2 linked regions of the Homo sapiens genome follow. The protein of the gene in region 2 purifies or fractionates together with the protein of the main gene of each other region. This does not show direct contact. Each region holds a gene or a part of one and is shown on either strand. Other genes may lie near its edges.

Region 1 (4,291 bases), on a different chromosome or scaffold from region 2:
ACTAACACAGGCCTCCATAACAACTGTTTCAGTACTGACTGAGTGGTGAAGTTAAATATTAAAAGCTGAAAAAAGCCAGTACCTTTATACAGAGGCTGGATGTAACAAAAGCCCACCAAGAGTTTTGCTTAGGCCTTTCCTGGGCCTTAAAGCATGACAAAACAATGAAGGAATTCTTAACAGGACCTATTTAGAATTAAACAAGTTTTATTGTGAGTCTGAAGAAACTCCCCAGGCCTCCACAAACAAGTTTATTGGGCGTCTGAAGGAACTCCCCAAACCTCCGTGATTTAGCAGGAGACAAGATAAGGGTAATCATCCCCCGCACCTGGACCCATTTAGATTAAATAAATAGACTGAGGCTCCAGAATAAGGTCCTCAGGACCCAGACCTCAGTTACAGATTAAAGAAGTTAATCACTTATGTCTTTAGATGAATGCACACTTACTTGTAGACATATACCTTAGAAGGTATATATGCTCTGGAAAACTTTGTAATATTGAGTTGGTCTGGTGGTAATTTCTAGGCCTTCTCCCTGTTACCGGTTGCAGAAATAAAACCTCTCTTCCTCCCCATTTGATCTGCATCTCGTTATTGGGCCTAGAGAAATAGCAGCCGGACCCTCAGTTTGGTCCGGGAAGTTCTTCCATCCTCCCTCGCCTGCTCTCTGTGGCCACTGCACTCACTGTTGCTGTTGCTGTTCCGGTCTCTGTGAGGTTCACCTAGTGGACTGGCTGGACATTTCTAGGGGGCACCTCAGATACCTCACCAACTTGCTGGATCTGATCCTTGGATTTCGATTCATAAATTGTGCCAAAATACGAAGTGGCTAATTTACACAGTACTTAGCCAGATGACCGAAGGACTCAGTACCCGAGGGCCCCTAACAGAAAACACAGACCACATTTCCTTTACTCTGGCCCTTTTCCTGGGGGTCCTTCCTATACCACTGACACTGTTCCTGTGTAGGCGGGGCTAGAGGGGAGACTAAGCCCTGGGAGTAGCTTTCGGATCAGAGGAAGTCCTGCTCTTACAGTGACAGGGGCTGAATTAAATTCCCAGGTTGGGGCCACCACTTTTTAGTCTGACCCCTGCAGCCGGAGTCTCCCAGAGCCCTTGGGAACTCGGCAGCGGAGAGAAGGCTGAGGGACACCGCGGGCAGGGAGGAGAAGGGAGAAGAGCTTTGCTCCGTTAGGATCTGGCTGGTGTCTCAAGCGCACAGCCAAGTCGCTGTGGACCTAGCAAGGGCTGGATGGACTCGTGGAGCCTCAGGGCTGGGTAGGGAAGCTGGCGAGGCCGAGCCCCGCCTTGGGCTTCTGGGCGCCCTGACTTCGCTCCCGGAACCCTCGGGCCTGGGAGGCGGGAGGAAGTCTTACTGAGTGCAGCCCCAGGCGCCCTCTCCCGGGCCTCCAGAATGGCGCCTTTCGGGTTGTGGCGGGCCGAGGGGCGGGGTCGCAGCAAGGCCCCGCCTGTCCCCTCTCCGGAGCTCTTATACTCTGAGCCCTGCTCGGTTTAGGCCTGTCTGCGGAATCCGCACCAACCAGCACCATGCCCATGATACTGGGGTACTGGGACATCCGCGGGGTGAGCGAGGGTCCGCTGGACGGTGGGACGAGGGCGCAGGGGAGGGAAGTGCGAAGCAGCTGCGGGACGGACTCTAGGGACCGTTCCTCTTCAGGGCTGCCCGCCTCAGAAGGGCCTGTGCATGCCGCTGTGTGTGTGTTGGGGGTGTGGGCGGGTAGAGGAGGCAACGGGTACGTGCAGTGTAAACTGGGGGCTTCCCTGGTGCAGACAAAGTCAGGGACCCTCCATCTCTGACGCGACCTGCGGGCCATCTCTCCCAGCTGGCCCACGCCATCCGCCTGCTCCTGGAATACACAGACTCAAGCTATGAGGAAAAGAAGTACACGATGGGGGACGGTAATGGCACCCTCGTGTTCGGGCTCTGCCCACTCACGCTAAGTTGGCACCAAGCAACCCATGGTGGCCACCTGTGGCTGCCTCTGCAGGCCTCCCCTGCTGGAGCTGCAGGCTGTCTCTTCCCTGAGCCCCGGTGAGGGAGCCCTCTGGCCTTGCAAGGCAGAATGCTGGGGTGGGATGCTGGGCCCCCTGTCTAATTGGGACGGGTGTCCCTCAGGGCTTGCCTAAACCCTGGAAGCCTTAGCTGTGTGGGGTCCAGAGCCCTCAGCGGGATTCTTTGTCCCTGAACCCTGGGATGTGGGACTGAGTGGTCAGATTCTAGATCCACCTGTCTCAGGGATCTTGCCACTGGCTCCGTGGGAGGGTCCCCGGGAAGGAGGGCTGGGCTCTGGGGAGGTTTGTTTTCACTTCTTCTTCCCCACCACAGCTCCTGATTATGACAGAAGCCAGTGGCTGAATGAAAAATTCAAGCTGGGCCTGGACTTTCCCAATGTAGGTGCAGGGGAAGGGGCGGTTTTGGGGGAAAGTGCAACGTGTCTCTGACTGCATCTCCTCTCCCCAGCTTAGAGGTGTTAAGATCAGGAGTCTTCTGCCCAATTCCTCTCACTCCTGGCTGTCTAAACAGTCCTTCCATGATGTTCTGTGTCCACCTGCATTCGTTCATGTGACAGTATTCTTATTTCAGTCCTGCCATGAGCAGGCACAGTGAGTGCCCGGTCTCCTCTCTGCTCTTGCTTATGGGAAGGGGATGCTGGGGAGCCTGGTGGCCCAACTGAGCTTCGCCGGTTTCCCATCCATCCAGCTGCCCTACTTGATTGATGGGGCTCACAAGATCACCCAGAGCAACGCCATCTTGTGCTACATTGCCCGCAAGCACAACCTGTGTGAGTGTGGGTGGCTGCAATGTGTGGGGGGAAGGTGGCCTCCTCCTTGGCTGGGCTGTGATGCTGAGATTGAGTCTGTGTTTTGTGGGTGGCAGGTGGGGAGACAGAAGAGGAGAAGATTCGTGTGGACATTTTGGAGAACCAGACCATGGACAACCATATGCAGCTGGGCATGATCTGCTACAATCCAGAATTTGTGAGTGTCCCCAGTGAGCTGCATCTGACAGAGTTTGGATTTGGGGCCAGGACTCTTGCATTCCTGCACACACTGGTCTTAAGTCCCTGGTACCATTCATCCTCCAAGTGCTTTCCCATACTATCAGCAGTTATTCTCACGACTCCAATGTCATGTCAACAAAAGCAGAGGCAATTCCCACCAACCTTAGGACACGATCCAGGCATCCCAGGGTAGAAATTCAGTTCCTGTATGGTAAAGTTTGTGTTCAGAATCTCCTTCATCAGCTCTGGCCTCTGACTTCTGTCCTGGGTCATTTCTGTCAGCCAGTTCACATCACCTGCCTGCTCCTAGAATATGCAGACTCAAGTAGAAGACTCAGGAATGTAATGGCACCCTCGAATTGCATCTTCTCCTCAACAGTTTTCTGAGTGCTGTCATTGACATGCACAGGGATCTGCGCATTTTCATAACAGACAGCTCAGAGGCAGTCAGAGGGCCTTTATTCCTCTCCCTCCTTCCTTTCAACTTGAACTTCTCATCTCCCTGGAAACTAGTCAATGTTCATTGTTTTCTTCTGCCACCCCATTAGAAGGAACTTTCTACTTTCCCTGAGCTCCCTTAGTTCTTTGCATCCTTGATTCTGCTGGTCTGGATCCAGAGGCTGCCAGGTGCTTGGGCGCTCCTGGGGCTGACCCAGAGGCTATTGGGAGGTCAGTGAGGACAGATTCAGGGACAGCATCTCATTCCTCTCTGCCTTCTGATCAGTTTAGATAGGGTCTGGCACTCAGTCAGAGTCTAATAAATGCTGATGTATCCAATTGAAGCCTGGGCACTGCCCCAGTTCCAGCTTGGGGAAGATGGCTGCTTGCCCATGGCCAGCCTGGGCCGTCCACAGCCCCGGGGAGGCCACGTCTGTGCAGGGAGCTTTTGTCCGAGGGTGGTGACAGCTGTTTTCTGCCTCAGGAGAAACTGAAGCCAAAGTACTTGGAGGAACTCCCTGAAAAGCTAAAGCTCTACTCAGAGTTTCTGGGGAAGCGGCCATGGTTTGCAGGAAACAAGGTAAAGGAGGAGTGATATGGGGAATGAGATCTGTTTTGCTTCACGTGTTATGGAGGTTCCAGCCCACATATTCTTGGCCTTCTGCAGATCACTTTTGTAGATTTTCTCGTCTATGATGTCCTTGACCTCCACCGTATATTTGAGCCCAAGTGCTTGGACGCCTTCCCAAATCTGAAGGACTTCATCTCCCGCTTTGAGGTGATGCCCCCATCCTCCTTTCTCTTTGATGCCCCTTGTTCCGTTACCTCCT
Region 2 (4,134 bases):
CCCGTCAGGTCAACATTGCCTTTTTCAGGGAAGCTCTGCAAGCCTGACCTCCCTTGGAAGTGCCTTAGGACTGGCTTCTTGCACAGTACACAACCTTTACTTATAGAGGGTTTGGAGATTATTCTTTATTCATGTCTTATTTCTCCTGCTCCTGGAGGAGATGACTCTGACTTCCACTGACTCTTTTGGGGGGCTTAAGTCAGGGTTGAGTACCAGAGGCCCTAAATAGCTGGACGTGGATTCTGGTAATATCAAATCCATCTTTGGCTTAACTGAGAGGTTCTGAAAGCTGGGACCTGACCTTGTCCATTTCCCTCTTTCTCCAGTTTCCTATTATTTCCCACTGTTTTTTTTAAAAGTTTTTTGTTTTCTTAAGTTTTCACAAGAATAAACATTGAAAATAAAATTTGCACAAAGATCGAACTAGGAAAGGCCACACAACCAACACATATTACATCATTATAGGTAAGTTAGCAGGGAGATTTCAGACCTGGGCTAGCTCTGGAACCACATTTTACACTGTTGAAAATAAAAGCTGGAGTACAGATGACTTTCCCAGGTTCACAGAGTTGGTAAGCTGGAGAGCTGCACCTGGAGCCAAGCAACCTGCCCTGTCCTTTCCACTGCACCCTCTAAGAAATCTAATTAGAAGGAACAGGTGGTATCTCATTTTGTACGGTGCTTTAGCAATGTACTATTTGCTTTCTAGTGTGTCTATTGTCTCGTTTGACATCTTCTCTCAAAAAGTGATGAAACGAAACGCTCTTTTTGACAAGTTCAGAGTGCTCTTGGTTCCTGTGTGGGATTCTTCCAAGTCTGAATTTGGTAGTGGGAAGAGAAGGAATCCGGAGGAAGGAGGATGAGAAGTTTAAAGGAGAGGAAAGGGAAGCAGAGAAGGCCGCAAGGTGCCTGCAAGATGTCTGGGGAGTTGGAGGAATGGAAGAGTGCCCCGCTCTTCCTTCTGGGAGAGCTCCAGCTAGGCAGAACCTTTCACCAAGGCTCTGATATCGTGCTGGTTTCCGAAAGCCCCAGCCGAAGGTGTGCAGCCAAAGGGTGACAGAAGGTGAGGCACGTGCGGGGGCGCGGGTGCTGACCGCCGCGGTGCGCCCTCCCTCCGACGTGCGGTGTGCGGGGCGCAGACAACCAGCGGCCGGCCCAGGGCTTTCGGGGAGCGAAGCAGGGCTCCCGAGGCACCGAGCGAGAATGGGAATGGGAGGGACCCGGTGCTCCCGGACACGCCCCCGGCAGGTCCCACGCCCGGGTCTTCTGAGACCTCGCGCGGCCCAGCCCGGGAGCGGCCCAGCTATATAAGTCCCAGCGGAAGACCGGAACGCAGAGGGTCCTGCTGGCGCGAGGGTGGGTAGGAGGGGACGCGGGGACTCGGCCCCCAACACCGCGCTCCGTCTGCAGCCGCCGCCTCTGCACCGCCGCTGCCCGGCGGTCGGTTCAAAAAACAGAAATCGGGTTTGCTGCCCGGCGGACAGGCGTGAAGAGCAAGGGAAAGGAACTTCCTCCACCTTCGGGGCTGGAGCCCTTTTCCTCTGCATCTCCAGTCTCTGAGTGAAGATGGGGGGCCTGACAGCCTCGGACGTACACCCGACCCTGGGGGTCCAGCTCTTCTCAGCTGGAATAGCGGCGTGCTTGGCGGACGTGATCACCTTCCCGCTGGACACGGCCAAAGTCCGGCTCCAGGTAGCTAGGCAGAGGGGTAAGACAAGGGGTCTCAGGACAGAGGGGACGCTGTTGCGTGCATTCCATTTATTCTCTGCTTTGGTGTAACCACTGTTTCTAGGTAGGGTAGGTGACCTTCCAAAGCAGTCTGGCCTTGTCCCAGGGCTGGTGCTTTAGGATGGGAAACTGGAACTTTTTCTGGGATTAGCTGAAGAACCACCAGGGCCACAGAGAATGGGTTGACCATGACTACTACCAAATTCTCCCAAAATTTAGGGTGCACTTAGTATTTTAAGAGCTGAGAATATTGGCCTCTCCTGAGTTTACTAGTCAGGTGCTTTTTCCTTTCTTTGATTCTTCGGGGGTTCTGTCCTATCCTACTGCCCTAGGGGTTCTGGAGAGTTCCTGGGGAGGGGGATATTCAAAATGTGCATTGTAGCCAGCCTCCCTCCATCTGCGCGTGAGCGAACACACACACACACACACACACACACACACACACACACACACACACACGGTAGAGGGAGGTGGATGGAAGAGGAATGTTGCTGAGAAAAGAAACGGAAAATAGGAACACAGGGGGAAATCTTGGCTTAAGAGTGAACTCAATTTCGCTCCCTTCTGTTCTGCACCTTTCTTATTTCCAGGTCCAAGGTGAATGCCCGACGTCCAGTGTTATTAGGTATAAAGGTGTCCTGGGAACAATCACCGCTGTGGTAAAAACAGAAGGGCGGATGAAACTCTACAGCGGGCTGCCTGCGGGGCTTCAGCGGCAAATCAGCTCCGCCTCTCTCAGGATCGGCCTCTACGACACGGTCCAGGAGTTCCTCACCGCAGGGAAAGAAAGTAAGCCGTGAGCGTTCCTGGGAGGGGCAGAAAAGCCTTGGGCTCCGCTCTGTTCCAAAAAGTGTAACACACAGAGGAGTGGTTTTCATAACAAATTGGCGAGAAAACATTCATATTTGAACTCTCCCTTCCCCAAACATTAGCTCATTGTTCATAGAAAAAAGTATGCAAAATCGATTTTTTAGATGCAGATATATACTTGTAAAGGTCACCCAGTCATGGAAGTTTTGTGCCCAGTTTGGATCTCCATCTGGAGAATATGGGTGGGCTACAGAAAAATGTTTAACTTAAAGTTCTCCAAAGAGGGAAGTATATCAGAAACATCTATGGAGCTTGTCAGAAATCCAAACGAGGACTACCATGGTCCTCTGAGTCTGAATCCTCAGGCTAGAGACCAGAGTGTCTTTCCACAAGCTTCCCTCATCATTTGTGTATGCAACAAAGTTCAAAGCCTTCTGTTTGAAGCAAAGAAAGCCAGACTTTGTGAAGAGAGTTGAAAGGACAGGAAAAGACATATTTCCTCTTAAGAGGTTCCTCATCAGGTCCAGGAAAGACCAGAGCAGAAAAAGTGGACGAATGCTGCAGGGAGTTTGTTTAGGGGAAAAAGAAAAGGAAACATATTTCCTGAGTGCCAGTGCACTCTAAGAATTCCTGTCACTTTAGGTAGCATTTATTTGAGGGCTTAACTATGAACCAGACATTGTTCTAAGTGCTTCAGATACATTATAACTGGAAGGGTATTAGTACCATTATCCCTTGGCAGATGGGAAAACTGAACACAGAGCAGATTCATCACTTGCCCAAGGTCACACAGCTGGGAGGGGGCAGAGCCAGGGTTCAAACCCAGGCAGTCTGGCCTCGGACTCCAGGCTCCTAACCCTGTTCTCTACTGCCTTCTGCACTTCTCATATGATTCTGCCCATCATTCAAACCGCACAACACTGCTGTGAGTAAAAAGTGTTAGCCGAATATCAGGGTAGTTAAGTAACATGCACAAAATCACACAGCTAATCAACATCAGAGGCACTTTCATGTGGAGTAGACAAGCCAGAGAGAAGATGTGCTGATGGCACAATGAATACATTAAGTGAAATCCACCTTGTAGATTTCATCATTTCTGCTGTGAGTAACCTTCAATACTATAATTTTATGGGATAATTTATAAATGTTGTCTATACAAATATATAAGTTATACTTATCCACACAAGTACTTTCAAAGTGAAGATAAAGTCTGGATGTTACTAGATCAAAACTGCATTTTTTTATTTATAGATGTAGCAAGAGAGGAAACACAAAGGAGGTAAAGCTGCCCGTTCAGGTGGTTTTCTTCACAGATTGACTGTTCTACCAATTGTTGTGGACTTTGGGCACCAAATTAATAGGATATATGTTGGCAGTGTTCTATGTTATATAGATTCAGTTTATTTAGTAGGCTTTATTGAACTGCCATGTGCCAGTAACTATGTTAGATGTTTAGATGGCAGATGTGTCTCTAGACAGAGCTTACAGTTGAGAGTATGGGTTGTGTGGGGAGAAGTGAATAGATGACTATATTCCATGATACATGCTGTATTACAATACAGTCCTACTTCACTTAACGATGGGGATACATTCTCA

Evidence for each region. The genes of interacting proteins can lie anywhere in the genome.
Region 1: the proteins of UCP1 (region 2) and GSTM1 purify together in Homo sapiens (affinity purification with mass spectrometry, with the first as the bait; one large-scale study listed by BioGRID). This does not show direct contact.

Annotation. Positions count from the first base shown.
Region 1 is NC_000001.11:109,686,326-109,690,616, forward strand, and holds the start of GSTM1 (glutathione S-transferase Mu 1), read left to right. Parts: upstream 1-1,491; 5' UTR 1,492-1,548; coding exon 1,549-1,584; intron 1,585-1,791; exon of another isoform or gene 1,792-1,844; coding exon 1,845-1,920; intron 1,921-2,347; coding exon 2,348-2,412; intron 2,413-2,722; coding exon 2,723-2,804; intron 2,805-2,899; coding exon 2,900-3,000; intron 3,001-3,945; coding exon 3,946-4,041; intron 4,042-4,128; coding exon 4,129-4,239; intron 4,240-4,291. UniProt on the Homo sapiens protein: Conjugation of reduced glutathione to a wide number of exogenous and endogenous hydrophobic electrophiles. Involved in the formation of glutathione conjugates of both prostaglandin A2 (PGA2) and prostaglandin J2 (PGJ2).
Region 2 is NC_000004.12:140,566,162-140,570,295, reverse strand, and holds the start of UCP1 (mitochondrial brown fat uncoupling protein 1), read left to right. Parts: upstream 1-1,334; 5' UTR 1,335-1,566; coding exon 1,567-1,692; intron 1,693-2,318; coding exon 2,319-2,517; intron 2,518-4,134.